2 linked regions of the Homo sapiens genome follow. The protein of the gene in region 1 interacts with the protein of each later gene in a biochemical or structural test. Each region holds a gene or a part of one and is shown on either strand. Other genes may lie near its edges.

What was found.
Region 2: the proteins of RECQL4 (region 1) and WRAP53 form a complex in vitro, tested with the Homo sapiens proteins (one study listed by BioGRID).

The regions. Positions count from the first base shown.
Region 1 is NC_000008.11:144,514,962-144,519,557, reverse strand, and holds the start of RECQL4 (ATP-dependent DNA helicase Q4), read left to right. Parts: upstream 1-1,724; 5' UTR 1,725-1,773; coding exon 1,774-1,857; exon of another isoform or gene 1,858-1,922; coding exon 1,923-1,956; intron 1,957-2,049; coding exon 2,050-2,144; intron 2,145-2,367; coding exon 2,368-2,508; intron 2,509-2,793; coding exon 2,794-3,570; intron 3,571-3,667; coding exon 3,668-3,794; intron 3,795-4,100; coding exon 4,101-4,232; intron 4,233-4,315; coding exon 4,316-4,408; intron 4,409-4,485; coding exon 4,486-4,596. UniProt on the Homo sapiens protein: An ATP-dependent DNA helicase which unwinds dsDNA with a 3'-overhang in a 3'-5' direction. Does not unwind more than 18 bp of dsDNA. May modulate chromosome segregation. The N-terminal domain (residues 1-54) binds DNA Y-shaped DNA better than ss- or dsDNA.
Region 2 is NC_000017.11:7,691,380-7,695,179, forward strand, and holds part of WRAP53 (telomerase Cajal body protein 1), read left to right. Parts: intron 1-3,800. UniProt on the Homo sapiens protein: RNA chaperone that plays a key role in telomere maintenance and RNA localization to Cajal bodies. Specifically recognizes and binds the Cajal body box (CAB box) present in both small Cajal body RNAs (scaRNAs) and telomerase RNA template component (TERC).

The sequences.
Region 1 (4,596 bases):
CCTAGCGCTGGGCTGGGTGCAGTGAACTGGCAGACAAACTCACAACTCAGCCCCAGCCCTCCAGATGCACAGGATCTCTTTAGAGAAACTAAGCGTCAAGCAGTGTGGCATCGTCAACAACTCGCTTGCTTGGGTATGCTTTTGACAGATGCCTGTTGCCTTGCAGGGCCCCCCATGGGTACTTCAGGCCTCTCAAATTACAAAGCTGCTTCACAAAACCTTCTTCGAAACCTGAATAAAGCCCAGGACTCTCCCCACCAACCTTCATCAGCATTAGTATTGACGGGACACTCTAAGGAGTCAAGCAGCCAAATCACCTTTCCCTCCCCTCTCCTCACAGATGCTCTCCAGGGCTACACTTGGACTCCACAAAACACCAAAGAGCTGGAAGCACAGAAGCAGCTTCATAAGCAACAAGGCAGGTTGAAAAGACCGAGACCCAGGGAACACCGAGTCCAGATGATGTAGCCTATAAAATACAAGCCCCCGCAAAAGCTACTATTCTCCAGAGCGTCACCAAGCACGGAGACCCCGAAAGAAAGCAACCCTCACCTTTGTTGGCCCTTACCACTGGCCTAAACCTCTCCCTCTTCCCTGGAGAGCCACTGTGGAAAGACCAAGTCTTAAGTATGTGGGATTCAGAAGGTGCAAAGCTACAGACTGCTCAGACAAGGCAAAGAAAGCTGCCTCAGCAGCACCCAAGCTGCAGAGATGCACAAACACTCCCAAGGCCACAAGGTACCTGTGACACAGGGTGCCAGCCCTGCTGCTGCCTGTAGCATCCTCAAAACTAAATCGCAGCCATCTCCCTGTGACAGATTAGAAAATGAAGGCCTCGGCCTGGCCCAAGGTCACAGCCTGAGTGACAAGCCAGGGAAGGGGGCCGGGGAAGACACTCTGGCCCCAAGGCCCTTCTTTTTGTCGACTTTTCCACATACAAGTAAGTCCTTAAGGCACCGGTTCCTGAAAAGTCCCAGACACCAACCCTCGGCCTAGTTCTGCCGGTGGACAGATCTCAACGATCATACTCGCTCTGACAGGACAGACCAACCGAGCACTTGTCACGGGAGAACACCAAAGCAGACGGCCTGCCCACCAAGGGAGGCAGGCACCTCCGTGCGACGCCCCCTCCCCTCCCGCCGGCCGCAGGGAACGCGACGGTCCTCGGTCGCCTGCGTTTCGCGAAGACGCCCCCGCCCGGCTCCTCCGGGCCTCGAGCCGCGGGAGGCGCTGGACCCTCCGCTCTTTCGCCTCCCGAGCGGGGCCTGCTCCTCCAGGTCGGATGCGTCTCCCACCAGGGCCTGACGCCGCTCCGACCGGCCCGGGGACTCCCAGTCCTTCCCGGCCCGCGGTGGCACCTCCCAGGCTCCCGGCCTCGGCCCCGGGCTCCCAAATGCAGCCACTGCCTCCCTCGGCCAGGCCGCCCCGAGCGACCGGTGCCCCGCCCCTTGAGGCCAGGCAGGGCCAGGGGCGTGCGCCGCCCCGCTCAGACACCCCCCCGGCCGCCCGCGCTCACCGGTCCCGCAACCGCAGCCACCGCCTCCAGCCCCGCCTAGACCGTCCGCCGCTCCCCGCCCGGCGCCGCGGCGCCCCGCGATGACGTTGACGCCTCCCATTGGCTGCTTGTCCGAGGCCCGACGGACTGGCTGCCCAGGGGCGGTGGCCCCGCCCCCGGCCCGCCGCGCATCCGCATTGGCTGTCGGCCCCCGCGACGGCTGCGCGGGAGATTCGCTGGACGATCGCAAGCGCGGAGGCCGGGCGGGCGCGCGCGCCATGGAGCGGCTGCGGGACGTGCGGGAGCGGCTGCAGGCGTGGGAGCGCGCGTTCCGACGGCAGCGCGGGCGGCGACCGAGCCAGGTGCGGGCTGCCCAGGGGCCGAGGGGCTGAGGGCGCGGCCCGCGGCTGACGCGTTCCCTTTACAGGACGACGTGGAGGCGGCGCCGGAGGAGACCCGCGGTGAGCGCGCGGCGGGGCGGCGGGGGCGAGAAGACACCGGGTCGGCAGGGGCCCAGGCCCCACCCTGACCCCGCCTCCCGCTCGCCCACGCAGCGCTCTACCGGGAATACCGCACTCTGAAGCGTACCACGGGCCAGGCCGGCGGCGGGCTCCGCAGCTCCGAGTCGCTCCCCGCGGCGGCCGAAGAGGTACCCAGGCCCCGCCGCCCCAGCCTCCTCCCACTTCCCTGTTTGGCGGAGTGGCGGGAGCCACGGAGTCGCGGCCAGGCCGCCGTGGGGCACAGAACTTGGGAGGGGGACTGGGCAAAGTGAAGAAGGGCCGGGCCTCGCTCCAGGTGCGGGAGGGGTGGCTGGGAGCGCTTCTGCCGCCACAACAGCCTTTTCTGGCCTGTGCCCCTGTTGTCTCCTGCAGGCGCCAGAGCCCCGCTGCTGGGGGCCCCATCTGAATCGGGCTGCGACCAAGAGTCCACAGTCTACGCCAGGGCGGAGCCGCCAGGGCTCGGTGCCGGACTACGGGCAGCGGCTCAAGGCCAATCTGAAAGGCACCCTGCAGGTGAGGAGTGGGCAGGCAGTGAGTCCACGCTAGGTCCACAGCTGCTTCCGGTCCGGGTCGCCCTCTTGTCATTTTTTCCACACAGACAGGCACGGGCCCCTGTGCCAACCAGGGCACGAGTCTTCAGGGAGCTTCTCGGGGCCTTCGCCCTTGACTCCCTTTCTAGTCCAGCCTTGTGCTAATTAGCCTGCTCTACAATTGAGCGTGGGGACTCAGGTAGGTTTTAGAGTCTACAGTAGCTCAGGGGCCTGAGTTCCTCCTGCTGTTCTGTTGTTCCCCTCCCAGGCCGGACCAGCCCTGGGCCGCAGACCGTGGCCTCTAGGAAGAGCCTCATCTAAGGCATCCACCCCAAAGCCCCCAGGTACAGGGCCTGTCCCCTCCTTTGCAGAAAAAGTCAGTGATGAGCCTCCACAGCTCCCTGAGCCCCAGCCAAGGCCAGGCCGGCTCCAGCATCTGCAGGCATCCCTGAGCCAGCGGCTGGGCTCCCTAGATCCTGGCTGGTTACAGCGATGTCACAGTGAGGTCCCAGATTTTCTGGGGGCCCCCAAAGCCTGCAGGCCTGATCTAGGCTCAGAGGAATCACAACTTCTGATCCCTGGTGAGTCGGCTGTCCTTGGTCCTGGTGCTGGCTCCCAGGGCCCAGAGGCTTCAGCCTTCCAAGAAGTCAGCATCCGTGTGGGGAGCCCCCAGCCCAGCAGCAGTGGAGGCGAGAAGCGGAGATGGAACGAGGAGCCCTGGGAGAGCCCCGCACAGGTCCAGCAGGAGAGCAGCCAAGCTGGACCCCCATCGGAGGGGGCTGGGGCTGTAGCAGTTGAGGAAGACCCTCCAGGGGAACCTGTACAGGCACAGCCACCTCAGCCCTGCAGCAGCCCATCGAACCCCAGGTACCACGGACTCAGCCCCTCCAGTCAAGCTAGGGCTGGGAAGGCTGAGGGCACAGCCCCCCTGCACATCTTCCCTCGGCTGGCCCGCCATGACAGGGGCAATTACGTACGGCTCAACATGAAGCAGAAACACTACGTGCGGGGCCGGGCACTCCGTAGCAGGCTCCTCCGCAAGCAGGTAAGACAGCGACGGGCCAGGACAGGCATTCCCTTTCCCTCCCCTCAGCCCTCCCGTATTTCCCGCCCAGTGACCCTCCTATGTGGGCACCCCCCAGGCATGGAAGCAGAAGTGGCGGAAGAAAGGGGAGTGTTTTGGGGGTGGTGGTGCCACAGTCACAACCAAGGAGTCTTGTTTCCTGAACGAGCAGTTCGATCACTGGGCAGCCCAGTGTCCCCGGCCAGGTGAGACATCTGCCCTGGAGGGTGGGTCCGGCCAACACTGTGGAGAGGGCGCAGTGCTCTTTTGGGGGACACTTATGTTCCAAGCAACAGGCCTTCCAGGTACCCCTGGTCCAGGCCCTACCCTAGCTCCCCTGAAGGAGGGTGGCAGGGACGACGATGGCTGTCACTCTTTTCTGCTTTGGAAAAAGTAGCCCAGAGGAAGGGCACTGCCTGCTGCCAACCCCCTTTGGGGGAAGGAGAGGTTGTGGCCAGTGGTTGTCTTGCCCGACCTGGAGCTCCCATTCTACCCTCTCCTGCCTGCCCCAGCAAGTGAGGAAGACACAGATGCTGTTGGGCCTGAGCCACTGGTTCCTTCACCACAACCTGTACCTGAGGTGCCCAGCCTGGACCCCACCGTGCTGCCACTCTACTCCCTGGGGCCCTCAGGGCAGTTGGCAGGTGAGCAGTCAGCTTCTGGCCCAGAGCCTTCACTGAGGGGTTGGGGTGACTCAAGTCATGGTGATCAACATCTGTGTCTGCAGAGACGCCGGCTGAGGTGTTCCAGGCCCTGGAGCAGCTGGGGCACCAAGCCTTTCGCCCTGGGCAGGAGCGTGCAGTCATGCGGATCCTGTCTGGTGAGCGTGGCTGCCAGGGCTGAGGCTGGGCTGAGGCCAGGCTGCAGAACCCTGCTGCTGACTCCCGCCCCATCCAGGCATCTCCACGCTGCTGGTGCTGCCTACAGGTGCCGGCAAGTCCCTGTGCTACCAGCTCCCAGCGCTGCTCTACAGCCGGCGCAGCCCCTGCCTCACGTTGGTCGTCTCTC
Region 2 (3,800 bases), on another chromosome or scaffold:
CATGAGAGAGGTGTTTTTTTTTTTTTTTTGAGACGAGTCTTGCTCTGTCGCCCAGGCTGGAGTGCAATGGCGTGATCTCGGCTCACTGCAACCTCTGCCTCCTGGATTCAAGCGATTCTCCTGCCTCAGCCTCCCGAGTAGCTGGGATTACAGGCACCCGCCACCATGCCCAGCTAATTTTTGTATTTTTTTAAATAGAGACGGGGTTTTACCATATTGGCCAGGATGGTCTCGTACTCCTGACATTTGATCCGCCGGTCTCGGCCTCCCAAAGTGCTGGGATTATAGGCATGAGCCACCGCGCCTGGCTTAATTTTTGTATTTTTAGTAGAGACAGGTTTTGCCACGTTGGCCTGGCTGGTCTCAAACTCCTGACCTCAGGTGATCCACCTGCCTCAGCCTTCCAAAGTGCTAGGATTACAGGCGTGAGCCACCATGCCAGGCCATGAGAGAGGTTTTTTTTGTTTGTTTGTTTGAGACAGAGTCTTGCTCTGTTGTCCAGGCTGGAGTGCAGTGGCACCATCTCAGCTCACCGCAACCTCCGCCTCCCAGGTTTAAGTGATTCTCCTGCCTCAACCTTCCGAGTAGCTGGGATTACAGGCATGTGCCACCACACCCGGCTAATTTTTTTGTATTTTTTTAGTAGAGATGGGGGGTTCATCATATTGGCCAGGCTGGTCTCGAACTCCTGACCTTGTGATCTGCCCACCTTGGCCTCCCAAAGTGCTGGGATTACAGGCATGAGCCACTGCGCCCGGCCAAGAGAGTTTTAAAACAGAAGAGTGAATGGTTTATGGGTGGGCAAGAGTGAAATCCAGGGCCAGGCACGGTGGCTCACGCCTGTAATCCCAACACTTTGGGAGGCTGAGATGGGTGGATCACCTGAGGTGAAGAGTTTTAGACCAGCCTGGCCAACATGGTAAAACCCTGTCTCTACTCAAATACAAAAATTAGTTGGGGCTGGGTGCGGTGGCTGACTCCTGTAATCCCAGCACTTTGGGAGGCTGAGGCAGGTGGATCACCTGAGGTCAGGAGTTCGAGACCAGCCTGGCCAACATGATGAAACCCCATCTCTATTAAAAATACAAAAAATTAGCTGGGCGTGGTGGCGGGCGCCTGTAATCCCAGCTACTCTGGAGTCTGAGGCAGGAGAATTACTTGAACCAAGGAGATGGAGGTTGCAGTGAGCCAGGATTGCACCACTGCACTCCAGTCCAGGCAACAGTGTAAGACTCCGTCTCAAAAAAAAAAAAAAAAAAAAAAGATTGGCTATAGTTTTCTCCCACCCATCCTAATCAGGTTCTGCCTCCATCGCTTCCTGAAAGTGCTCTTGTCAAGGTCACTAATGTCCTCTTGGGTCATTCTCCTTTTTTTTTTTTTTTTTTTTTTTTGAGACAGAGTCTCGCTCTGTCACCCAGCTGGAGTGCAGTGGCGCCATCTCAGCTCACTGCAAGCTCTGCCTCCCGGGATCACGCCATTCTCCTGCCTCAGCCTCTCCCGAGTAGCTGGGACTACAGGCGCCCGCCACCACGCCTGGCTAATTTTTTGTATTTTTAGTAGAGACGGGGTTTCACCATGGTCTCGATCTCCTGACCTCGTGATCCTCCTGCCTCGGCCTCCCAAAGTGCTGGGATTACAAGCATGAGCCACCGCGCCCAGCCCCTCTTGGGTCATTCTCTAAATTCGCCTCACTGCATCTCTTAGCAGCATGAGTCACTGTCTCCACCTCCCTGCGCTGGAGCACTCAGGCACTCAGGGCTCTGCTGGGCCTTCTCCTCCTCCATCAGCACTCTTTCTTTTTTTTCTTTTTTTTGAGACGGAGTTTCAAAAAATCAGACCCACCAAGGCATGTGGCAGTTGTGTTGCTCTTTGCTCGGTACCCGCTAGAGGTCTGTTGCCATTAATTTGAAATGAGACCAGTTAGTGTGACTGTGCATCTTTCCTGGCAAGTTAAATGACTATAGTTTCTCTGTTTGTAAAATGGGGATGATTATAATAGCACCTGCCTCACAGAGTTGTGAGAATTAAAATAATCAGTAATGAATTAAAGCACTTAAGGCCGGGTGCGGTGGCTCACGCCTATAATCCCAGCACTTTGGGGGGCCGAGGCAGGTGGATCGCCTGAGGTCAGGAATTCAAGACCGACCTGGCCAACATAGTGAAACCCTGTCTTTACTAAAAATACAAAAATTAGCCGGGCTTAGTGGCGGGCGCCTGTAATCCCAGCTACTTGGGAGGTTTGAGGCAGGAGAATTGCTTGAATCCAGGAGGCGAAGGTTGCAGTGAGCTGATCGCACCACTGCACTCCAGCCTGGGCAAGAGAGCAAGACTTAGTCTCAAAAAAAAATAATAAAATTAAAAAAAAGTACTTAAAACAGCACCTAGCATATAGTAAGTGTTCGGTAAACACTAGTAGTCACTGGTATCAGTTGTGTGCAAGCCAAGAATAGGAGGATGGTATGGTTGAGGTTTACCAGGAGAGAAAGACAAGGGTATCCTGAGAGTGTCTTCAAGAGTGTGCATGCCATGGTGGACTAGAATCTACAGTGGGTAAGGAACTGGACTGTAAATAAGTTTTTGATGAAGCTGAATAAATTGTCATGGTAGAAATAGCAGAGCAGGGTCAGGCCTGGTGGCTCACGCCTGTAATCCCGACACTTTGGGAGGCCGAGGCGGGTGGATCACCTAAGGTCAGGAGTTCGAGACCAGCCTGGCCAATATGGTGAAACCCCGTCTCTACTAAAAAAGATACAAAGTTAGCCAGGCATGGTCGTGATTATGATATTAATGATTATAATATTAAAACATTTTAAAAAATATATCTTGCAATACAGATAGTCAATTTGTTTTCTTTTTTTCTTTCTTTTTTTTTTTTTTTTTTTGAGACAGAGTCTCGCTCTGTGGCCCAGGCTGGAGAGCAGTGGTGTGATCTTGCCTCACTGCAACCTCTGTTTCCCGGTTCAAGCGATTCTCCTGCCTCAGCTTCCTGAGTAGCTGGGATTACAGGCACGCACCACCGCACCCGGCTAATTTTTGTATTTTTAGTAGAGATGGGGTTTCGCCAAGTTGGCCAGGCTGGTCTCAAACTCCCGACCTCAAGTGATCCACCCATTTCCGCCTCCTAAAGTGCTGGGATTACAGGCGTGAGCCACTGCTCCTGGCCAGTCAGTTTGTTTTCAAAAGATTTTTGTGGCTGGTGTGGTGGCTCATGCCTATAATCCCAGCACTTTGGGAGACCAAGGTGGGAGGAATGCTTGAGCCCAGGAGTTTGAGACCAGCCTTGGTAACACAGCCAGATCCTGTCTCTATCAAAAAAGTTGGGCCTATGGTCCCAGCTACTTGGGAGGCTGAGGTGGGAGGATCGCTTGAGCCTGCGAGGTTGAGGCTGCCATGACCTTTGATTGCACCATTGTACTCTAGCCTGGGCGACAGAGTGAGACTCTGTCTCAAAACAAACAACCAAAACCTTTTTGTGCTTTTTTTTTTTTTTTTCCTGCTAGTGTACCAGTTCTATCGCAACCTCTCTCATTAGGTATTTTCATTTTTAGTGTCTACAAGCTTAGCATTTGAAATAGATAACTTTTTTTTTTTGAGATGGAGTCTTGCTGTGTCCCCCAGGCTGGAGTGCAGTGGCGCGATCTCAGCTCACTGCAAGCTCCGCCTCCCGGGTTCACGCCATTCTCCTGCCTCAGCCTCTCGAGTAGCTGGGACTACACGCACCCACTGCCACCACGCCAGGCTAATTTTTTGTATTTTTAGTACAGTCGGGGTTTCACCATGTTAGCCAGGATGGTCTCGAT